Linked DNA regions of Homo sapiens: region 2 is linked to region 1. Evidence: fine-mapped expression QTL. Tissue or cell type: whole blood. Region 1 holds a variant in brackets; the other region holds the start of a gene. All regions are shown on one strand. Distances are between the middles of the regions.

The links. PIP is the estimated chance that this variant, and not a neighbour inherited with it, causes the effect.
Region 2: TRIM44 starts here. The variant in region 1 is fine-mapped to the expression of TRIM44 in whole blood (INTERVAL, PIP above 0.99).

Annotation. Positions count from the first base shown.
Region 1 is chr11:35,677,306-35,690,094 of GRCh38, reverse strand. TRIM44 (tripartite motif containing 44) reads right to left here. Exons shown (of 5, transcript NM_017583.6): 2 at 4,759-4,836. Among named protein-coding and RNA genes, the nearest start is that of TRIM44, 21 kb to the right of the region's middle. The variant G/T (reference allele first, on the strand shown) is at 6,160.
Region 2 is chr11:35,656,757-35,669,545 of GRCh38, reverse strand. TRIM44 (tripartite motif containing 44) reads right to left here and starts at 6,771. Exons shown (of 5, transcript NM_017583.6): 1 at 5,766-6,771. The coding sequence starts at 6,434. RefSeq lists enhancers at 6,083-6,583, 6,795-7,114 and a silencer at 6,375-6,754.

The sequences.
Region 1 (12,789 bases):
TTAATCCCACTCCAGTCACACAGAACAATGTGAGCCACTTGGCTCAAGTTTTAAGATGCTTCTTTTTGAGAATATAAGATTAGTATGAATTCAAGACACACAACTGTGCTAACTGTTTGCTTCAAGCACACCAGTTACAGGAAACAATGAACAGTGCATATCAGAGGGAAAGAAAAGCAATCAATACATAATAGAGAGAAAGTGGCTGTTATTAACTACATAATAAGAGGTTAGTTTGATTGAGCTTAGCATGTTGTACTTTTGGTTCAATGCTTTCTGAGGACTGGGCAGGGGGAAGGGAGGAAAGGGAATCAACGTGTTTTCCAAGCCTAGGTTACCTCTGAGTAAACTGTGAAAGATAACTGCATAGTCACTACAAAGGAAAGCTGTGAAGATAAAGAAATAAAAAAGCTCTAAATTTCTTAAAAATCCAAGTACAGACACACATATACACACATACCCCTGACTGATTACATTTTAAAATTTCCCTAAAGCCTACCATAAATGTACTCAATCTACAGATAAGAATCCTGCTTGTGCAATAGGTGTTTCAGAAAAGTTTGGCTGGAGAAAAAAAAGTTTGCAAACTAAACCAAGTCAAACACATTAGGACAGCGTATTATGTAAAAGACCATTTCCTACTAATCGTTTTGACAAACTAAAGATTGTTTGTTATTAAAAGTAATCTTCTTCCACGATATAGAGGGTTCTAGATGCCCAGAGGTATGTACCCTTTAAAACAGGGCTCACCACAGCAACATCCATGCACAAAACTTCATTCGGTCTTGTACCCTATTTCTTAACCATCACTGGCTCTGATTCCTCTCCTAAGGCTCACCCATAATGGCTGGTTGTTCCTGATTTTCCTCTGGTTTTAGAACTCAGCCTACACCTCAACCATGGCAGGGAGCTTTGATCATCCTCCTAAATCCCGACCAGGATCCCTTTCCCTCTTTTTGGCTTTGCTAATTCTCTGTTGGAAGTGACAGTGTAAAGCAGTCCCGTCCTTTTAGCCTAAGCTGACTTCCTAACCCACCTCTTTTTCCCCTCCCTACTCCTTTCCTACCTCTGCTCAACTTGTTTCATAAGCCTAGATTTTTATCTACCTTTTTTCCAAAGTTGAAATCACCTGGACTTATTTCTAGGGGCTCTTCTACTTGTTCAAAGAAGTGAAAAAAAATCATTAGCAAACATAGAGGAAAACAGCTAAGGTACAGCACAGAGGTTCTCAAAGTGTGGTACTTGAAACAGCAACATCAGCATCACCTGATAATTTCATAGAAATGAACATTGTCTAGCCACCCCAGGCCAATTGAATAAAAAACTCTGGAGGTGGGCACAGCACTCTATATTTTAATACGTCTTCTGGGTGATTTTCATGTACACTGAAGTTTAAGAACCTCTGGGTCTGGAAGAAAAGAAGATGTCTGACAAATGTTTTGAATAAAATGAGGCATCTCATTAAACAGAATCAAGTCTATATTTTTGACACAGAAGAATATCTAAGATATTCCACATAAAGGAAAAAGCAATTGTAAAACCATGGGTATAATTTTGTAAAAGAATTTTGAAAAGGTACTACATAGAAAAATGTCTAGAAGGTTACATACTAAACTGTTAACAGTGGCTAACTTAGGGGAGATTTTACTTTTTCTTTATGAATATCTGTATTTTTAAATCTATAAGTATGTATTATTTTATAATTTTAAAAAAATGATTAATTTAGACATCTTCTACTGCTCTCTAGCAAAACTCAAGAGGTAAAAATTAACTCATTCCCCAATAGGCTTCAGTGTCTGGACTAATCAAGCTTTGTGATGCTTTAGGGAATTCTAGAGGAAGTGAGGCAGAGATAGTGCTCAGTCCTCCATGACTCAATCAGTGCTTCTATGTAAAGCCTCTGTGCCCAGGAAATGACAGGTCACAAAGCCTAAGAGATTTCTGCCCTTCTTAAATAGGCCAACTCAAAAAGGGGATGGTGGGGCTCTGTGGGAAAACAGAACAGACAAAAACTTAAGGGTTGTCTTGGAAGATGCCAATTTATTTCTAGGAAAATCTTCTTTGTGCAGAAATTATATATTTAAGTGGCCTGTTTTTTACCCCCATTCCTGACCTGGCAGTCATTCTGCAATTACGTTCACCCTTCTTCAAGCTGGCTCCAAGTATATACAGCATATGGTTGTGGTAGACTAAAAAGGGGCTTGAAAATAAAATAGGTTGGTAGTAAATGATCCAGGGCAAAATAAAAAGAACGTAAAAAAGAGGTGCAGGTATACACACACACCCAAGATCAAGTCGGGTCCTTACAAATATCCTTTACCTTATGATGCATCAAGAGAAAACCCTGACACTTCCAGGGATTCCTCTCATGCAACCGCTCAAACCTTTCACTTTCTGGCAAGCTTTCCATCAGAAGCACTACATGCATTCATAAAGGATCCCAAAGCACTTTACCTGTATTATAGTCATACACAGAGAACACTCAGTGTGATTTGTACACATCCGCTCCCTCTTCACTGCACTGCTAATTATAAGTTTGGCGGAATCAGAATATGGTTGTCTCCTGCAGAACAGGAGTTGCTCCAGAAACCAGAGAAACTTGGTAAGAAAAGCTTTCAGTAACTTTTAATAAGTGGTTCATCCTAGCTAAAGGAAAAACTTTTATCAGGGGTCCTCCTACTTTGAGCTAGGAAAGTTGATAAAGGTTACTCTAATTTTTTCTATCTACCAACCTAACTCTCTACTTCTGGAACCCTGACTACACCAGAAGACAAGAGATCTTACCAATGTCCCCGATATTTTCATTGCCATATGAAGAGAAATTTATTCTTGTGGCTGCAGCCACCTTTTGAAGAGCCCACCAGTCTATGGCTCTGCCACATATTGTGTTTCAATTTAGAAAACTGCAGCACAATGTGATCATGTGGCAGAAAGGAGATAAAATCCAGTGCTTGGTTTGCATGACATAAGATAAAGAGTATAGGCACTGGAGTCAGAGTTTGAATTCCACATCTATATTACATTAGATTTGGGCAGATGATTCTACCTTTCTAAACCTCAGTGTTCTTATCAATAAAGTAGGAAGAAAATGCTACTTTACAGTGTTGTTAAATAATTAAAAGTATTTAAGGGGAGAGCAGGAATGAGAAGTTAGCATTTAATGGGTACCGAATTTCAGTTTGGGATAGTAAAAAAGCTCTAGAGATGGACAGTGATGATGGCTGCACAACAAAGTGTGGCCAGGTGTGGTGGCTCACGCCCATAATCCCAGCACTTTGGGAGACTGAGGCGGGCAGATCACTTGAGGTCAGGAGTTCGAAACCAGCCTGGCCAACATGGTGAAACTCTGTCGCTAGTAAAAACACAAAAAGTTAGCTGGGTGTGGTGGCATGTGCCTGTAGTCTCAGCCACTCAGGCGGCTGAGGCAGGAGAATCACTTGAACCTGGGAGGGAGAGGTTGCACTGAGCCGAGATCATGCCACTGCACTCCAACCTGGGCATCAGAGCGAGATTCCGTCTCAAAAAAACAAAAAACAAAAACAAACAAACAAACAAAAAACCAAAGTGAATGTACTTAATGCCATTGAACTGTACACTCAAAAATGGTTAAAATTTTGTATGTATATTTTAGTACAATCATGTAAGAGTCCTAGCAAAGTGCCTGACTCTCAGTAGATACTCAAGAAATGCTAGTCCCATTCCTCTTAAAAAAAAAAAAAACAAAAACAAAAACAAAAAGAACCTACAGTAAAATAAAATCATGCGCCTTTCCCTATTTAATTGTGAGAAACTTTGATTCTAAGGCAAAGCCAGCTGGCCCCAATACCAGGTAGTGCCACAGTAAGTGTCTGGGTAGGAAGGAGAAGGAAGTCTGTTCAGTTCCGTTTACCTCCACCCCGTTATGGTGTCTCCCAGAATATCAATCCTCTAGACCCTAACATATTGAAATAAAAAAAAAAAGCCGGGACACTTAAACCAGTTTCCAAACCAGACTTCAGGTCATGAGGAAAAAAGTATTCTGAGTGGCAGCTGGCTCCTGGAAGCAGTGGAGAGATAAGACGCTAGTGCTGAACACCAACTAGATGAGTCTGGATCCCATGCCAGTCCCTGGCATTAAGATGATCTGTATTTCTCAGCTGGTGCGGTGGCTCACACCTGTAGTCCCAGCACTTTGGGAGGACGAGGAGGGCGGATCACGAGGTCAGGAGTTCGAGACCAGCCTGACCAACATGGTGAAACCCCGTCTCTACTAAAAATACAAAAATTAGCAGGGCATGGTGGCGCAGGCCTGTAATCCCAGCTACTCAGGAGGCTGAGGCAGGAGAATGGCTTGGACCCGGCAGGCGGAGGCTGTAGTGAGCCAAGATTGCGCCACTGCACTCCAGCCTGGGCAACAGAGCGAGACTCTGTCTCAAAAAAAAAAAGATGATCTGTATTTCTCTCAGACGCCTTTGGCTGCATCTAATGGACACAGAGGACCAAAGATTCAAAGACCCCTGGTAAAGGAGGATTAAAAATGCACCTGTCTGCAGTTCAGGGAAAACAATGAATGATTATGTGTTGTAAGTCATAAAATAGAGAAGGAGAAAAATAGATGACTTATCTCTAGGCATATCAGGACACTGTTTCTGATGGGCAGGCTTAATTAAATCTTAATGCAATATTCAGAGAGATGATCATCAACACCTCACAATTTTAGCTCAAGGAGAATGAAATGCTTGGGGTACCAACACCCAATCAATTCCAAACAATACTTACTTTAGGGTCTGAGCTCTTGAACTTCAACCTTTCCACCAATTCGATCATAGCGGCCTTCAGTCCACCTGAGTCTTTGCTCTAGAAGAAAGAAAAGTGAGGGGTCACTAGACAGCATTTTGTTGCTCTCTCAAACACAAACAGCATTTTGGAAGACAATGAAATAGAAAGCAATTTTTTCTTAACAGCCAAGAGAGCTAAACAACAAAGGAGAGGTGCATTGCCCCTCTTTCCCTTCTCTATGGACAAAGAGTGTCAGGACATAAATTGCCCAGTGACTGGCACAACTATATGGAATGAAAATTAAATACAATTTGTATAGGCTGACTCACTGCTTCATCTCAGGCTCAACTGTGCTGGTGTTCACTGAAGCTCTACAAAAGACAGTTCCATACAAGATGTCTATTTTACAGACTGGTAATTTTTATTTTGAACCTTTATGCATCAGATATAGAAGTATGCAATATTAAATATACTTATAAAAATTAAAACAAAGAAAATAGTCTGAAATTTAATTATGAATGGAACTGTAGTGTGCTGATTAAGAACACAGGTTTTTTAACTGGGTGTGGTAGCTTGCACCTGTAATTTCAGCTACTCAGGAGGCTGAGGCAGGAGCATTGCTTGAGGCCAGGAGTTCAACACCAAAAAAACCCATAAAACTCACAGGTTTTTGAGTCAGACATATACAGTTCCAATTTTGGATTTGCCATTAACTAGTTGATTAATTTCAGGCAAATTACTAAATGTCTCAAAACCTTCTCCCCCTTCTATAAAATAGTGATAATAAACTGGGCTATTTTGGGGCCTAACTGAAAGTGTTTTAAAAGATATTAGCACAGTATGTGGCACACAGTGAGTGCTCAAAAATTTCATATGCTATTACTATTATTACAGTATAATGATTTAGAATAGCACAGTACAATAAAAGACTAATGTGAGTCCCAAATGCAAGCGTATGTATATAATTTTATAACTGCCACAATTAAAAAGTAAAATTGATTTTGATGTATTTTACTTAACTCAGTATATTCAAAATATCATTACAACATGCAATTTCAACATGAGATTTTTTTTTATGCTAGGTCTTTGAAATCTAGTATTTCACAATTACAGCCCAATCAATTTAAACCAGCCACATTACAAGTGCTCCAAAGCCACATGTGACTAGTGACTACTATATTGGTCAGTACAGATTTAGAGCACAGACTAGAGCCCTAGTGCCATTAGTCACACACTAGCTGTGTGACCTTAGGCAAGTTACTTACCCTCTCTCTGTCTCAATTTCTTTATCTGTAAAATAGAGCCAATAACTATCTATTTCATAGGACTGCAGTAAGATTAAATTAGTTAATGTATGTCAAGGTACTCAGAACAGAGCCTGGCACATGGTAAATAAAAAAG[G/T]AAGTATGAAACAGTTTTATTACTATCTGTCTCCCTCGTGATATTTTCAGTTCCTTAAGGGTAAGAACTGTATTTTTTTGTATCCCTGTATCTCTTATGCCCAGCATCTAGATGTTGTAAAAAGTCTGAACAAATCAATGAATGAACATATAACCTTAAGACATGAATGCCATAATAATAATACATTATATTATATATAGGACAATCTAAAATCACAGGAATTCATTTATTTTCTTATCTCAACAACTCTATCAGATAGGTAGGAACATTCATTTCACCAATGAGGGAAAGGAAGCAAAAAGAGGTAAACTCACTGTCATTTCTATGGGGTAGGGACAACAAAGAAGTACAAGAATAAACAGATACTGCAAATATCTCTTACTCAAAATTGGCCTCTGGATCTGTGATAACATATCTTCCAAATTTACAGAACTAATTTCAATTCCTCCAAAATAGGAAATACCTAATAAGATTCCACTATATAAATTAAAATATACTAAAGGGTCAATTTTCCCCCCTCTGACCTCTCTTGCCTCTCAAGTCTACACAGTAAAAATCAGACACAACATGACTACAACCAATATCTACTTTAGATGTGTTCTCCAAACACAGCTTAAATCACATTTCCATGTTAGCAAAGGTTCTAAATTTTAATAAGTTCTATTTTTTAAAATGATGGTTTACAACTCCCCTATATCCTCCACTAATTTTAGTCTTTAATCTCTGTGGTCTCATAGCAGACAGTTGACAAAAGGAACTTAGAGGTCATATACCAGGAAGCAGGTGAGACCTGAAGTGCCTAAAAAAGGGTTAAGTTGCCAGAAACAATCATGCTTTTACGAGATGATCAGACAATAAAGCCTGTCTGGTGATATCATTCCTCTAACCTGCTTCTCATTGGCTGAACAAGCAGGTCACTTGTCCCTGGAAAGCTCTCTTCCCCCACATCCCAGCTGCCAGCGCCCATTTTAAGCTCTTCGGCAAGAGCTCTGATATATTATGACTTTCCCCCTGGCTCTAGAGAACAGAAAGGAATGCACCAAACTGTGTCTTAAAACCTTCAGAAAAGAATAAAACGACAACGAAGGAATCCCTAAGAAGCAGACAGCCTGTCTGCAAGCAGATGTGCCTCGTGTGGATGAATAAGGGAACCCTTAGCCTTCTTTCATAAAAATTCAGTGTGTCAGCAGAATCCTTCCTCCTTTTCACAAAGCATCAGCAGCATCGCCTAACCAGGGAAGAGACAGAGGAGAGGCAACTTAAGAGAGCCTCCCTTCAGGAAACTCACCTGTTCCACCTCCCCACCCCACTCTCTGTGAATTATTCACCAAGATTAACTGGGCTCTATGATGAGCCTGCTATACTCAGTCTCTAAATCAGTGGTGAAGAAAACCTTTCCCAAAGGCTTTTTTAAAAATCTATAAAATAAGCAGTTGGTCAGAAGGCAGAGGCTCCTCGGGGCAGACCTGACCCTGACAGCTGCAGAGCTGGGGCAAGAGTCCAAATGGAGGACTCTGGCCCCAATCCACTCCCACCACTTTCCCCACATTCCAGTCCCTTCCTGCACCCCAAGGGGCCTTGTGCACAGGTGTTCAAGCTAGCAGGTCCAAGCTGAGAATACCCCTCTTGGTCACCCATGATACACATGTGGGACCTAGGGATACATGTATCAGAAACTGGTCCATCTTCAGGCAGACGGACTCAAGGAGAGGCTCTGCAGGCCCTGGAAGCAAGCTCAGGACATTTTACCAGGTAATTCTTGGGTAGCTAGGTACTTGAAGAGTGGTACGGAACGGGACAGGCATGGCTACAGGAGGGGTCTTCAAAAGCATGGGACATAGCCCAGCTACTCGGGAGGCTGAGGCAGGAGAATCGCCTGAACCTGGGAGGCAGAGGCTACAGTGAGCCAAGATCACTCCACTGCACTCCAGCCTGGGTGACAGAGCGAGACTGCATTTCAAAAAAAAAAAAAAAAAAAAAAAAGTATGGGACATAGGTCAGGGGCATGGGGTTGTTTGGGTCTAAGGGTGGTGGTATCTGAGTCTGAGTATCCCCAAACCATAGAATAGTACCATGTTTTGGTTAATTATTTGTTTGCTGAGGACAGCCATTAGTCAAAAGATAGCCAGACAGGAGATTATATCCTCATTTGTTCCATAGTTAGGGAACCAGTGAACAGAAAAGATAGTGGAACAGAACAGCTGCCTCTGAAACCTGAGTTCTAATTGAGAAGTGAACCAGGATAGTAAGAAAAGACAGCCTAATTCTAACCTTGTAGACATTTGGTTCCATTTTTAGAAATGATTGTCAATCCTTGGGGCACATAACATGACTAGCAAAGTAGTAGGATTCCCCTGCTATCTGTACTTCTCCACCTCCATCCCACCCAATGCATTCCAAGAACACAGGAGTTCAATGTGAGCATATCTTGTTTATGTACCTTGTTCCTCCCCTAAGAAGGTGTAGAATAAAAAGAGATAAGTGCTACATTGTGACACCCACCACTCAGAATTTGATTAATCTGTAGAAGCATAGGATGCTTCACAGAAGCCACCTCCTAGGGATGAGTCATAATAAAACCAAAGGACAAAATGCTGTACATGTGAAGGTATTCTTTAGTCTCCAAAGCACTTTCATATGCTCTTTCATTGGCATCTCACTGAAAAGCAGTGTATTCTCACTTTACAGCTGAAAAAAATGGCTGGTGAAAATCAAATGAACCCAAAGCTCAGAGCGCTTATACTCTTTCACTGGCATTTCACAGTAATACAATAACTAAAAGGTAGTGTATTCTCCTTCACAATGGACAAAAATGGCATTGTGGATGTCAAACAATGTCCCCAAAATCACAGAGCTGGTCAGTGACAAAACCAAGATCAGAAAGATCTAAATGAAAAAGATTTATAACATATACATGGTATCAAGAATACAGAAAAAACACATAAGGGATTTCTATACATCAGTAAGAAAAGGCCAAATAAACCCAACAGAAATCTCCAAAAAAAAATGAACAAACGAGACCCTGTCTTAAAAAAAATAGAAATGTGAAATGCAAACACATCAAAACATGCAAAAGATGCTCAGACTCACTCATGATTAAAATATAATTTCTTACCCATCAGCCTGAAATAAATTTTAATCTCATAACAGCAAGTGTTAGGCCCTGGGGAAATTGGGGACTTCCATATGTTGTTGATGGATATATAAAATAACTGCCACTCTGAAATCACATGCCTACCAATCCACTTCTCCTTTCCTCTTGAGGAAGACTAGCACCTGTGTCAAGGATGCATGTACAAAAGTATTTATTGCAGCACTGTTTGTAATACTAAAAATCTGTAAACACCCCAAGGATTCATAAATATTGGGTGGCTAAATAAACTGTGGAATTAACACACTGTGGAATACGACATAGCAAATAAAAAGAATGAGGTAGGTTGTATGTACCTGGATACAATGCATGACATATTGTTGAATTTAAAAAAAAAAACAAAACCTTGCAAAATGGTACATGTAACAGTTTTTTAAAAAATTATTACTTTCTATGAGTGACATAGGTATGTAGAATATTAGAAAAGCAATTATTGCTGGGACTGGTACTTAGGATAGAAGGATTTTAGAGTTAAATATATTCCTATTAATTGCATAATTAAGATTTAGCATACTAAAAAACAAACAAACAAAAAAAGGCAGGCAGTAAGGCAGGGAGAGAAGCAGAAGTTGACCAAGAGGGCCAAGGTCTCCTGCTTACAGTGCTTCTTCCCATGAATTTGCCTAAATGTAAATACTGGGGCCTTTTCCTTTGACAATGCAAACATATGGACCAGCAGATTCAAGAGAAGGTTCTTTACTTGATATTCATGTATGGATTTCAGGGGGTCTGAAATCCTCAAAACGATATAAAATTTGGGCTGTACATGACATTAGCTTTTCTCACATCCTCAAAAACAATTAACATTCCAAATGTAAAGAGCATTGCACAAAGAGAAAGGAGACCTAGGTTTTACTACTAGCACTGCCAGCAACTGCTTGTGTGAGCTTGGAAAAGTCATTTTACATCCCTGGGTTTCTGTTTTTCCATCTGTAAATGAGGAAGATGGACCAGATCAAAAGCTATATATCCACAGCCTGAGGCCTACAGAACTATTTTCTTTGGCTTTTAGAGTGTTGTCCCACACATCCACTAAGAGTTTTAAGTTAGTTGCTAGCATTTAAAAATGAGGACATATGACATAAAAATAAAGATTTCTAGCTTCTTTTGTAAATCCAAAGGGTATGACTGTAATGGGCTCCCATTCCCATATAGCAGAAATTGGCTGAAGCTGAGTAGCAACTACTCACTTTAGGCAAAGCAACCTCTCTCAAGTTTGCCAGTTACCTTGGCTTGCTTCTCTTCTTTACATTACCTTTCTGGTAGATATCTGAAGTTGCTATCCCTGGAAGCAATTCTAAATGTTTTCTACCTCTAATGTTCCTTGTGTTTGAACACCATGAAAATTGGGGTGCCTTTCTTCAAAGGAGTACATATTACCTGATACATTCAGATCCATCCACCCCAAAACACAGAAATAACATTTCATGCTAATGGAAACATGCCTTAAAAATGGGTAAAGGGTAGAAGCAAAAGTAGAATATGGCAGGTAGCAGTGGCATCAGAATAGGAAGAAGAATTCCTTGACAAGTGGTCTCTGCACTTTCATGGAAGTCAGTCTAGTCTAATGCCAATAACCAGCTAGGCACCCAAAAGAAAAGTCACGTGTCAGCAAAAATGTAAATATAAGCCACATAAATATCCTAAACTGGCTCCTGAATATTGAATTCTATTATTACAAAGAATCAATCAGAAGATGTTGAATTCAGAAAGAATACTAGCTATCTGTATTGGGGTGTTTTCCTCCCTATTCCATTGGCTTGTGTTGATATCATTCTTCTAAAAAAAAAAAAAAAATCAATCCAACTTAGTCATTTTACCAGAAGGTCTTGTCTGGGAGAAATTGTGGAAAAGGATCAGAAGATGGAATACAGAAGTCCTCCTTGGTCAGGCGCAGTGACTCATACCTGTAATCCCAGCACTTTGGGAGGCCAAAGTGGGTGGATCATTTGAGGCCAGGAGTTTGAGACCAGCCTGGCCAAGATGGAGAAACCCTATCTCTACTAAAAATACAAAAATAAGCCGGGCATGGCCTGTATTCCCAGCTACCTGGGTAGCTGAGACATGAGAATCACCTGAACCCAGGAGGTGGAGGTTGCAGTGGGCGGAGATCAACTGCCATCTATCCTGAGCAACAGAGTGAGACACTGTCTAAGAGAATGGGGAGGGGAGGGAGCGGGGAGAGGGGAGAGGGAGGGGAGAGGAAGTCCTCCTAAGGAATCAAATCAGAAAGCAAAGTTTTGTCAAAAGGAAATGAAATTAAATTTTAGTATCACCATCCCATGTACGAAAATTTTTACCACCTCCTTTATATTACTTCATTTTCTAACTCCAAACCCACTCCTACACTAGGCCATCACTTTTAGTTGTCAGACTCAAAGTCATTCTTGGGTCTGAAAAAAAATCCATCAGCAAGTCTTTTTAGGCCGAACTCTAAAATATATGCCATATCCAGTTGGCATGTATTCTTCACTATCGTATTGTCCACTATTCCCAACCTGGTACAAGCAGCAATACCGCTCCCACTCTTGCTACCCAACAGCCCATTCTCCACATAGGAACCAAAGAGAAGTTTTAAGAATATAAACCAGATCATTTACTCCCTTGCTTAAACAGTCTATGACTACTTAGAATAAAACCCAAAATCCTTACCACAGCCTACTTGGTAATCTGACCTCATCTACTAGTCAACCCCTACCCCACCACTACTGATTATACTCCAGCCATTCATTTTATCCCCTTAGTAAACTTGTTCTATCTCAGGGCTTTTACACTTGCTGTTCCCTTCAGTTGAACCACTATGTCCCTAGAGCTTCTCATCACTGGCTCTAACTACACCCAGGTCACTAGTTCAAAAAGTCCTCAGATCCTTAAAAAGCTTCCCTCTCATTCCCACATCCCAGTCACTCCCTATCTCCTTCCCCAGTTTGTTTATTCACAGTACTTATCATTATTTAAAATATCACTTATCATTTAACTTCCTTACTGTCTGTTTTGCTCAAAGATTATAAATTCCATGACTTAGAGTTGCTTCTTGTTGGTTCCCTACTGGCCAAAATACTCCACCTGGCAAATTTTAAGCCTTCAATAAATATTTGTTGAATGAATAAATAGACCAAAAGAAAAGAAATGCCACTAACTTCGAATAATATATAAAATTATCTTAAGAAATACTATACCTCAAAGAATTGTGGTAAACATTAAATGAAAGAATATGCAGAAAGTTTAGAGAAGCAGTACAAGCTAAGTTCTCAATAAATGTTAGTTATAATTTCTGTTGTTATTATTAATTAAATAACAATACATTGAGTGACTACTAAGTATCAGGTATTGACCTAGAGAAGTGCTGAATAGAACAAAATAAAAAAAATATTTTACTAATTAAAATTATATATAATATATAGAAAGAAGACCAAAGAGAAGGGGAAAATAGTTTTAGGATATTCAGAAAGTATTCATCTATTAAATGCCTTCATATA
Region 2 (12,789 bases), 21 kb after region 1:
CAAGATGGAGCCATTGCACTCCAGCCTGGGTGACAAGAGTGAAACTTCGTCTCTAAATAAATAAATAAATAAATAAATAAATAAATAAAGGGGATCCTTTCCATATAGACTTGGGACCCTCTCACCTTTTCACCCTGCTAAAAATCTCAGAGTAAAAGCAAACTAAACTTGTTACTATCCAAACATCCAAAGGGGAAGGTAGAGAGGTTAACAAAACAGAGAGGGGGAAAAAATGAAAGAAAATCTCTAAGATGTGGGCAAGGTCCTCCTGAAAGTTTGGTCCAAGAAACCTCAAGAAATTAATTTAGTAGAAGGGGATTCTAAACAAGTTGTACTCTCAGGCCTTAGCAGAATCAAACTCGAATCCTCTCTTGAAGTATGCAGCTTCATGCAAGATTTGGAAAAGTCCCATAAGCAGTTTTTAAAAGGCAATGAGAAGCTACACAGCTACACAGAACCCAGCACAAAAAGAAATAAAAACATGAAACATGAAAAACTAAAAACAGCAGCAAAAAGAGGTCCACAAAGTCTTCACATACTAGAATTATCAGAGGCAGATTATCAATCAATATGCCTACAGTTCTTAAAGGAATAGCTAAGACAGCTACAGAATGAAAAAAAAAGAATTATGATTCACAAATTTATACTAGCACATTTGAAAATTTACATAAAATGGACAAACGTCTGAGAAAATGTAACTTATCAAAACTGACCTAAGAAAAAATAGACAACCTAGACAGACCTATGACTATTAAAGAAATTGAGTCCATAGTCAAAAATACTATGTAAAACAATAATACCTAGCAATCCCATTACTGGGTATACACCCAAAGGAAAATAGATTATTTTATTACACAGATACACGCACGTGTATGTTCACTGCAGTGCTATTCACAATAGCTAAGACACTGAATCAATTTAAATGCCCATCAGTGATAGACTGGATAAAGAAAATGTGGTACATATACCATGGAATACTATGCAGCCATAAAAAGGAATCCGATCATGTCCTTTGCAGGGACATGGATGGAGCCAGAAGCCATTATCCTCAGCAAACTAATGCAGGAACAGAAAACCAAATGCTGCATCTTCTCACTTACAAGTGGGAGCTGAATGATAGAACATATGAACACATTGTGGGGAACAACATACACTGGAGCCTGTCAGTGGATAGGGGGTGGGAGGAAGGAGAGCATCAGAAAGAATAGCTAATGGATGCTGGGCTTAATACCTAAGTGATGGGATGATCTGTGCAGCAAACCAGCATGGCACATGTTTACCTATGTAACAAACCTGCACATCCTGCACATGTACCCCAGAACTTAAAAGTTTGAAACTAAAAATAATAAAATGTTGGTGATCAGTTAAAAAATGTAAAACCAAAAAACAAAACAAAAGAAAGCACCAACAATAAACCAACTCTCCCTTCCCCCTTCACTCTCTCCAGGAATAGATGGCTTCCATGGTCAGTTCTACCAATCAATATAGGAAGAAATATTTCAATCTTTCACAAATACTTCCAGACCATTAAAAGAGAGAAAGAATATATAAGAAACACTACACTCTGCCTCAGACTATGAAGCCAAACTTTGATAGCAAAATCCCATAAGAACAGTAAAAGAACAATGATAGGCCAATTTCTCCCATAAATATAAATGAAAAAAAACTACATAAATTATTAATAAGCCAAATCCAAAAACATAAGGCTACTTCATTATGACCAAGTTGGATCAAGGATATCCCAGAAATGCTAGTCTTTCTGCTTTAATTATAAAATACAACAATACGAAGAGATGAAAGTAAGACCATATATATGCACACACCTATATTTGCAGAAACACACACCTGAAGGGTAACCAAAAAACTAATAAAAATGGTTATTGGCCAGGAACAGCCTGTAATCCCACAGCTGTAGGAGGTTGAGGCGGGAGGACTGCTTGAGGCTAGGAGTTCAAGACCAACTTGGGCAACATAGCAAGACACCCATCTCTACAAAATAAAAAATAAATAGTTAGCCAGGCATGGTGGCACACCTGTAGTCCTAGCAACTCAGGATGCTCAGGTGGGAGGATTGCTTAAGCCCAGGAATTTGAGATTACAGTGAGCTATGCTCCCACCACTGCATTCCAGCCTGATCAACAGAGTAAGATCCTGTTTCTAAGAAAAAACAAGTAGTTACCAACAGCTGGTAGAAGAATCAGGTGAAAAGGACACAGGCTTTTGAGGTATATGAATGTATCACTGATTTTAAAAATTAACTTTAATAAGTAAATCAATTAATGTAATTCATCATCATAAAAGTGAAAGAGAAAATCACATGATCATCCCAAAAGATGCAAAAAAAGCATTTGATATTAAATAACCAATCAAAATTCAGAAAAACTTAGCAAACCAGGACTAGAATTTTTTTAAACTGATAAAACATATCTATTTTCAAAAACCATAGAACATATCACTTATTTGTGCAATGTTATCAATTACTGCTAGACTAGGAACAAGGCCAGAATACCCACCAACCACATCCATTCAACATAATACTCGGGGTGCTATCCAATGCAGTAAGGCAAGAAAAAACAAATAACAGATATAAGGATTGAAAAGAAACAAACAAAAAGTATCTCTCTTCACACATAATACAATCAGGTATGTAGAATAAATCTACAGATAAATTATTAGGATATGTAAGATAATTCAGCAGATAGATCACAAAAAAACAATATATAAAAGTTAATCATATTCCTATATTCAATTAGAAAACAAAACTTAAAACCATTTATTTTTATTTTAGAGATAGGGTCTTGCCGTGTCGACCAGGCTGGAGGGAAATGGCAGGATCATAACTCACTGCAGCCTCAAACTCCTAGACTGAAGCAATCCTCCCACCTCAGCCTTCCATATAGCTGACAGGTGTGAGCCACTGTGCCTGGCTCATATTTTCTACAATATTATAAAATTATGAAGTATCTAGGAATAAATTTTACAATGATGTGAAAAATCTTTGAGGAAAAAAATATAAAACTTAACTGCGAAGCAATAAAAAAGACCTAAATTAATGAATCAGAAGACTTCATGTTGTAATGATATTAATTCTCCCTATATTGGCTTATAAATTTAATATCCAAATACACTCCTGCAGGCTTTTTAATACTATGATTCTAAGAAATGTAAAGTGCCAAAACTGGCCAACACACTCTTGTAGGACAAGATGGAAGGACCTGCTTTACCAGATATTAAGACATATTATAAAGGGATAACTGAGAAAACATGCTGTTCACACAGGGATATACTAACAGATAAACAGTAGAGAACAGAAGAACCAAGAAACACATTCACACATATTATGGGCACTTGATATATGACAGTGGGACAGCAAATCAGTGCACAAAGGAAGGGCTTTTCAATAAATACAGCAATAGCAATTGGCCATCTGTATGGAGAAAAAATGAAATTGCGCCCCTACTTCTACTACACAAAAATCAATACTAAGTAGAACAAGACACAAAAAGCACTAACCATAAGGAAAAGTATTGATAAGTTTTACCACATTAAAATGAAGAGCTTCTATTCAAGGCACAACTTCTTTAAAAAGAAAAACCACATAGAAGATATTTGCAACCCACATAGAAAGAACAACAAAAAAAATCAGAAACAAATATATAGCTGGGCACAGTGGCTAACACCTATAATCCCAACACTTTGGCAGGCAGATCACCTGAGGTCAGGAGTTCAAGACCAGCCTGGTCAACATGGCAAAAACATCTCTACTAAAAAAAAAATACAAAAATTAGCTAGGCATTGTGGCATGTGCCTGTAATCCCAGCTACTCAGATGGCTGAGGCAGGAGAATCGTTTGAACCTGGGAGGCGCAGGTTCCAGTGAGCTGAGATCTAGCCACTGTACTCCAGCCTGGGCAACAGAGCAAGACTCTATCTCAAAAAAAAAAAAAAAAAAAAAAAAAACAGATATATAAAAACTCATATAATGAGAAAAGACAACTCAATAGAAAAATGGGCAAAAGAACTGACTAGGTACTTCACAGAGGAAGTATAAAAGATCCTCAAAGTCATTAGTAATCAGAGGAATGAAAATTAAAACCACAATAAAATACCATTACATAGCCACAAGATTGACAAAAATGAAAAATACAGTAATAGCAAGTTTTGAAGATACAGAGCAACAGGAACTCTCATATACTCTTCATAGTGATTCAAACTGGTACAACCACTCTGGAAAATAGTTGGCAACATGTAGTATTACTGAAGATATGCATAGCCTCTGACACAGCAATTTCACTCCTGCGTTTATATTCCACTTAAATGTATGTTAAATGTACACCGAGACATGACCAAGAATATTTACACTGACATTGTTTGTAACAGCCCGACGCTCCCAAACCTGGGAACAAATCAAATGACCATCTATGACAGAATAGATAACTTGTGGCATATTCATAAAATGGAATTCGAAATAGTAATGAAAGTGAATAAACTACAGTCACTCATAGGATGACTCTCACAAACACAATGTTGAGAAAATGAAGCAAAACCCAGAAGAATGCATGATAAAAATATGACACCCATAGTGTCAAGTTCAAATAAGTTTAGGAATGCATACACATGGAGTAAAAGCATAAAGGTAAGCAAGGAAATGATCACAGAAGTCAAGATTATGCTTACTTATGCAGAAGAGAGATGGTTATAATTGGAAAAGGTATGGGGAAAAGGCTTCAATATTGCTAGTAATGTTCTATTTCTTAATCTGGATGGAGACTACCTCAGTACTTGTTTTATAATTATTTGTTAGACTGTAAGTTTTTACACACTTTCTGAATGTGCATTTTACAATTATAAATAGGCACTAAAAAAGGGAAAACCTAATACAGAGGATCTTCACTCTCAAGGTATTTGTTATCCCAATGCCAGCTATTCCCTATTCAGGGAAGCAAAAGTCATCATAATATGACAATGTTCACTAATACAGATTACTTAATGAACTGATCACTCCACTCAAAATTTCCCCCTCCCTCCCCGATTAACACCAGCAGTTTCTCTCAATGATAGTAAACATCCACAATATGAATAAAAGGTGCATCGTCTGCAAATTCATTCATTCAACAAATATTTCCGAAGTGTCCACTGTTCTGGGGGACCAGTAAGGTCCACGACAGACAAAGATCCAGACAGAGGACATGGGAACTTCCACTCCCACCCCAATTTGGCCTCCATCTTCTTACCCTCCTTTTCTACTAAGTTTCAAACACGAAGAATCTAAAATGAACTCGGGGCACATATGAAGTTACTATTAAAACTATTTTGTTAGTCTTTTCAATGCAGACGTATCACTTGCTTGGATTCATGTGGCAAAATCCTATTTCCCATGTTTTCAAGTAGGCAAAAAGATTGCCTTATCAAGAGCCCTAGCACAAAGCACCAGTTTCAACAATAGTGATGCTGTGGAAATTGGCCTAAGTGGGGTCAAAACTCCCAAGAAATGCTTTACCTGGGATCCACAGACCAGAAACTTGCAATTTTCTAGAAATTGTATACTAGATTTTGTGTGTATTTTCTCAGGTCAGAGTCCAGAACTTTCATCAGATTCTCAAAAGAGTTCAACCAAAAACGGTGAATAAGAACTGCTCCCAAAAAGTTGGAAAGACTAGCTTCTTAGGGACACAGTGAAAGCGAATGTGGTCACAGCCAGGCCACCTGAGTTGAAACCCAGGTGTCCTGACCCCTAGGTTTATGCTCTGAAGGCCCAATACTTACTCTTAATTCTTCAAAGGCTTCGTCTAGGGTGGAGAGTTGGTGGCCCTGGTGAGCCCCAATGACTGGACACAGGACACAGATGAGCTGCCTATCTTCCTGGCAATAGGTACTCAAATCAAGCCCATGGTCCGGACACTTCCTCTTGGCCACTCTCTCTGCTTCCATTTCTATTTCTGGGTCAAATTCACTTTCTGCCTCAGTTTCTCCCTCCGCCTCGGATTCCCCTTCTTCTTGGTTGTCTTCTTCGGCCTCGCTTTCTTGCTCATCCTCCATTTCTTCCTCGCTGTCTTCTTCACTCTCCTCATCGCTCTCATCCTCACTCTCTTCCTCTGTCTCGCTCTCTTCCTCTGACTCGCTCTCTTCCTCCGACTCACTCTCTTCCCCTGCCTCGCTTTCTATCTCCCTCTCCTGCTCCACCTTGACCTCCGCTTCTTCCTTCCCCGCCCCCTCTCCGTCAGCTGGCGGGGTCCAGGCCTGGGAGCCGTGGACGTATTCGGCCAGATGGTGACTGAGGAACTTCTGCCTGTGCGCCTCGGCATGGCGGCGGCAGTAGCAGAAGCCGCATTCTCGGCACACTTCCTCGGCCCCCGGAGCCTCGTCGGGCTCGCACTCGTCACACGTGCCGTCGTGAGGCAGTTCCTCGAAGGCCGCGCCCACTCCAGAGGCCATGTGGGTGCTGTGACGCGGCCAAGGCCTCGGGGCCCCGGGGCTCGCCGCCTTCCTTCCGCGCGGCCTCACTTCCTCCTCCCGCCCCGGGTCCCTTCCTAGGGAGTCGCCTCCCGCCTGGACCGCGCCGCGTCTCGAAGCGGGACCTGGGGCCGCGGCAGCCCCTGCCCGGGCGCAGCAGCAAAGACCCTTTCCGCCGGCTCGGCCTGCTCCGCTCTGTCCCTGCGCTTCCTCTGCCGCGCAAGGCACTTCCGGCGCGGCCACCCGGCGCCCCCGTCGGCCCCCGCGTCGCGCCGCCCGCTCAGCCTCCCGCTACCAGGGAGAGATCGCGGCAGCCGCCGGCCCCCGCGCCGCCCCGGTTCCACTTTCCCTTTCCCCGTCAGGAGGCCTCCTTTTACTTCCTGAGTCATTTAAAGTGGCAATGACCCTTTTCTGCTTTTCCCGCGGGGCTCAGCTCCTCCGCTCCAAATCTCAGCGTGCCTTGGAGGAGGAGGAGGGAGAAGGAGGATGGAGGAAGTCTCTTACTCTCTCCAGAAGCAGGAATTGGGCTCCACCTCCCCCATTCCCTCCCTGGAAGTGTCAACTTGAGTTTTCACGGCCACTAGGCTGGTGTCCCTGTGCATTTCAGTCTCTCTTGTGCCAATTTGTCGCCGCCCGTCACAGTCCCCAGTGTTCTGCAAGGTGCCCGGACAGTGTTGTTTACCAGACTGAACCTGACCTCTTGGGATTTCCTGAGTGCGGAAGGGCTATGTTTGTTCTAGGCTAGGGGAATTGGAGTTAGGATGAGCAAACAAATATTTTCGATCCAAAGCAATACTGTGCTTTGTCTATTTGCATTGCTACCTCCTAGGATCTCAGAATTTCTGGGGTGGTAACCTCTGTGCGGTTTTCTGAGAGCTGCCTTCGGTTGGGCAGAGACGTCAGGTGAAGTGAGGTGGGGAGAGGCAGTATTTGTCGAGTGACAGGTCCAGGTTGCAGTCATTTTCCTTTATGTAAGGTGTCCCTCTAGATTCCCACTGGGCTCTAAGAGAAAAGAAGGGAACTGTTGTTTATAAAGCAGTACTGTAGTGCCAAGAACCCGGCTACATCTTTTTGTGGCTCTTTAAAAGCCGGTTTTGGAAGATCCTCTGCCCGATGGTCCCCAAATCCTGGTGCCACTACCTATCAGTTTTATGACCATGGACAAGTTAATTCATCATTCTGTTTTCCGCTTTTTAAAAAAGATGTTAAGTGAAAAGAACGGTAAATATCTACCTCATGGGGTAGTTTTGTGGATTAAATGTAACGATGCCTGCACTGTAGAGTATTCACTAAGCTTTCATTATTATTTTTGGCACAAATTATATTTAGTGCTCACAATGCCCCTTTGAAGGAACATATTTTACACACACAGGGCATTTTCGGCTGGCTGCTGGTAATGTAGGCAAGTCTCCACCTCTACCCCATATCCATGTCTCTCCATTCACAGAAGAGTTTTTGTTTTGCACTGTATTTGGGAGAGGGAAAATTACGTTTTTATCTAGTCAAGGGAGAGGCTGAGGTGTATTAAGAAGGATGAAAGGGGATGGAATGGTGTCTGTTTTACATTGATTCCCTTAGATGATTTTGAGTTAGAATTTCCAGATGCTTTCCTCAAACATACCAGGGGATGAGGTGGGGTAAAAAAACCTTTTTAATAGTTTTTAATGTCTCCATGGATAATGTATGCCTAATCTTTGTGCAGCTTTTGTTAGATATTTATTTTTTAGAAACCTTTCTTTTTAACCTCAGAACAATTCTATACAATGTTGAAAAAAATCAGGTTTATTTTGTTCCAATTCCATACACATTTCTGTTTTCCCCCAGCTCATTTCTCTGGAAATTATTTCTGTGTCTGCTTTTGAAACATGAATTGAAGCACCATTCTGAAAAAAAAAATTCAACAAATGTCAACTCAAACATCAACGTTAATATACCTAATGAGAAGTGTGCCTTGCTTGGTTATTTCTACTCCTGTCCTCCCCCAGGCTTAAAAGGAAACAACTTAGCCTTTACAAACATAACGTTCTCACATTTAGAAAGTCTTTTATTCAATGAAAATAATTTTTATTTTTTTTATTTATTTTTTTTTTTGGTGACAGGGTCTCTCTCTGTTGCCCAGGCAGGAGTGCAGTGGTTCAATCACAGTTCACTGCAGCCTCAGCCTCTTGGGCTCAAGCAGTCCTCCCAAGTGCCTCCCAAGTAGCTAGGACCACAGGCGTGAGCCACTAAGCCCCACTACTTGTTTTGGTATTTTTTGTAGAGACGGGGTCTCACTATGTTGCCCAGACTGGTCTTGAACTCCTGGACTCAAGTGATCCTCCCACCTCAGGCTCCCAAAGTGCTGGGATTATAGGTGTGAGCCACAGGCCTGGCCTTTTTAATATCTTAAAAGGACATTGTTGTATCCAGGGTATTTGATGAGGGGAGGGGGAGTCATGTCATCATTATTGTTATTACTGTTTCTTCTTAATGTTATCTGACAGAAAGTTAAAATATAATACTGTGCAGTTCAGTATCTGACACTTTACAATTCTTCTTGAGCACTCTGTGGAGAAAGGGTCTTAGAGGCAGACAGATTAAACTTTTTTTTTTTAAGATGGAGTCTTGCTCTTTTGCCCAGGCTGGAGTGCGTTGGCACGATCTTGGCTCACTGCAACCTCTGCGTCCCGGGTTCAAGCGATTCTCCTGCCTCAGCCTCCCAAGTAGCTAGGATTACAGGTGTGTGCCACCATGCCCGGCTACCTTTAGTATTTTTAGTAGAGATGGGGTTTTGCCATGTTGCCCAGGTTGCTCTCGAACTCCTAGACTCAAGTGATCCACCAGCCTCGACCTCTCAAAGTTCTGGGATTACAGGTATGAACCACCACACCTGGCCAGATTAAACTATTAAAAAGGGACTCCATAAATTTCTGGTGACAAGGTGTGGCAGACTCAATGAGGCAGATCTCTGTACCCCTCTGCAGAGAAATCCGAACCATCTGATTCCCCAGGAATTAGTATCTTTGGGAGTGTCCACAAATAGCACCCTTGTTATATTAACCTATTGCTACATAGAAAATGACATCAAAATGTAGCAGCTTAAAACAATAAACATTTATTATCTTACATAGTTTCTGTGAGCAAGGACTCTGGGAGTGACTTAGCTGAGTGGTTCTGACTTAGGGTCTTTCAAGAGATTTTGGTAAAGATGTTGGCTGTGCTATCGTCACTTGAAGGCTTACCTACAAGCATAGAATTTGCTTCCAAGATGGTTCATTCACATGGCTGTTGGCAAAAGGCCTCACCACTTTCTATAGGGCTGCTGGAATGTCTTCAAGACAGGGCAGTTGAATTCTCACAAAGCAAGTGATCCAAGAGAGGGCAAGATGGAAGATGCAATGTCTTTTATAACCTAAGTTCAGAAGTCACACGCCATCATTTCGTACATAGCTTATTGGTTAGAGATTAGCTCTATTCAGTGTGGGCAGAAACTGCACAAGGGCTTGAAAACCAAGAGATGGGAATCTTTGGGGCCATCTTGGAGGTTGGCTGTCACAGTCTGCCCTTTGGCCACCAATGATTCACGTATCTCCCAAATGTAAAATACACTCACTTCTTCCCAAGGTCCCCAAAAGTCTCAACCCATTATATTATCAGTTCAAAGTCTGGAGTCCTGTCATCTAAATTGGGACCAGGTGTGGATGAAGCACTTTGGTGTAGTGTTTTAAGTGCAGATCCTCAAGTATAGTTCATTTGAATGCCTATGTCTCCCACACCCCAACATGCAATGGTGGGACAGGTTTAAGATAACTGGTACAGGCTGGGCGCAGTGGCTCATGCCTATAATCCTAGCACTTTGGGAGGCCGAGGCGGGCGGGTCATCTGAGATCAGGAGTTGGAGACCAGCCTGGCCAACATGGTGAAACCCCATCTCTACTAAAAAAATACAAAAATTAGCCAGGCGTGGTGGTGCATGCCTGTAATCCCAGCTACTCAGGAGGCTGAGGCAGGAGAATTGCTTGAACCCAGGAGGCGGAGGTTGCAGTGAGCTGAGATCACACCACTGCACTCCAGCCTGGGTGACAGAGCAATACTCTGTCTAAAATAAAAATAAAAAAGATTAGTGGTACAGACAGTCCTGCTCAAAAAGGAGGAAAGACAGGAGGCCTGAGAAGTCACTGGCTCATAGAATCCTTAAATCCAGGTAGACACATTTTGGAAGCTGTTTGATTAGGGTTCAAACCTACTCCTTGTTCAGGAATGACTCCCCATGGCTTTTTATTTCACCCATTGAGCTCTTGATTCCACTCTCTGAGTCATCTTTCCTTTTCCATTAAAAGTAGTTCATGTTTGCAGCTGTGTAATTGTATCAATTTGCTTACTGCAAGTAGAATTTAGGAGGTCCAAAGGCTACTTTTCATTTTGTACTCTGTCTGTGTGTCCATGCTGGCAGTGCTTCTGCCAAAGAATTGTTTTGAAAACTTTGTGAATCCTCTATAAATCGAATTGGGGCTCATACCATTGGACAAAAATTATACATACAGCTCTTTTCAAGATAAACCCTTCTTTACTCTGTAGAATCCCTCAGTGAAACCACTAAAGCACAACACTATAAACTTCCTCCAAGCTCTATGGTTTGTTTGAATGATTCTATGAATCACTGCTATAGATCCTTTTGAGGTCTGAACAAAGGATTTTATAGCCGCACTCTTACCTTCATCATTTGATGATGTTTTGCTGGGAATGTCCTGGAGTTTTTCCTTGCCTGGAAGCCATTTTTTCACAGTAGCATCATTTGCCATCTGGGGAAGCTGGGAATTTTCAAAACTTGCAAGTTCCGGATTTTTTTTTAAGTCCTTCCTTTAGATGATCTCTTTCTTTTCACATTTTGCTATAATCAGCAAGAAAACATCAGTTAGCACCTTCAACAGTCTACCATGAAATATCCTTAGCTAGAACACTCAGCTGGTTAGGCACAATTTCTACTTTGCACATTACTGCAGGTGACAATGTTACTAAACTGCTGCCACTACATAACAAGGACCCTTTTCCTCCAGTTTCCAAAAACATGTTCCTCATTTCCCTTTAAGTTCTCACCTACAAAGGCTCTAGTGTTTTTCGCTCTTGTTGCCCAGGCTGGAGTGCAATGGCATGATCTCGGCACACCGCAACCTCTGCCTCCAGGGTTCAAGTGATACTCATGCCTCAGCCTCCCGAGTAGCTGGGATTACAGGCATGAGCCACCACGCCCGGCTAATTTTGTATTTCTAGTAGGGATGGGGCCTCTCCATGTTGATCAGGCTGGTCTCGAACTCCCGACCTCAGGTGATGTGCCCGCCTCTGCCTCCCAAAGTGCTGGGATTACAGGTGTGAGCCACCGCATCCAGCAAAGACTCTAGTCTTTCACTAACATTGTTCTCAAAGTCCTTCCAGCTTCTACCCTCTGCTCAGTTCTAAAACCATTCTAACATTTTAGGGTTTTGTTATGGAAAAACTATTCTTTTTAATAAAATTTGTGTTAGTTGTCTATCGCTACATAATGTAGGAAGGGAGGGGAAACTTCACCCTCAGAAGGTTTGCTATAAAATCACCTGAACAAAGGCAGATTAATAGAAGAAAAGATGTATAAATTTATTTAATATAAGTTTTACATTACACAAGAGTCTTCAGAATGAAGACCCAAAAGTACAGGGGGAAACTGTCTATTTTTATACTTAGGGTCAATGAAGTATGAACAGCCATGTAGAAATATGATTGAAGAAAAAAGGGTATGATCTAATGCTAATGTCAGGGGTGTTTGAACCAGAGCAACTCCATCTTGAATAGGGGCTAGGTAAAATGAGGCTGAGACCTACTGCGCTACATTCCTAGATGGTTAGGCATTTTAAGTCATAGGGTGAGATAGAGGGTGAGCACAAGATACAGGTCATAAAGACCTTGCTGATAAAACAGATGACAGTAAAGAAGCTGGACAAAACCCGCCAAAACCAAGATGGCAATGAGAGTGACTTCTGGAGATCCTCACTGCTACACTCCCACCAGCACCATGACAGTTTATAAATGCCAGGGCAACGTCAGGAAGTTACCCTATATGGTCTAAAAAGGGTAGGCATGAATAGTCCACCCCTTGTTTAGCATATAATCAAGAAATAACCATAAAAGTGGGCAGCCGACAGCCGTCTGCTCTGTCTATGGAGTAGCCATTCTTTTATTCCTTTACTTTCTTAATAAACTTGCTTTCACATTACGGACTCACCCTGAATTCCTTCTTGGGCGAGATCCAAGAACCCTCTTTTGGGGTCTAGATTGGGGCCCCTTTCTGATAACAATAACAGACTGAGTGGGGAGACAGCAGGGT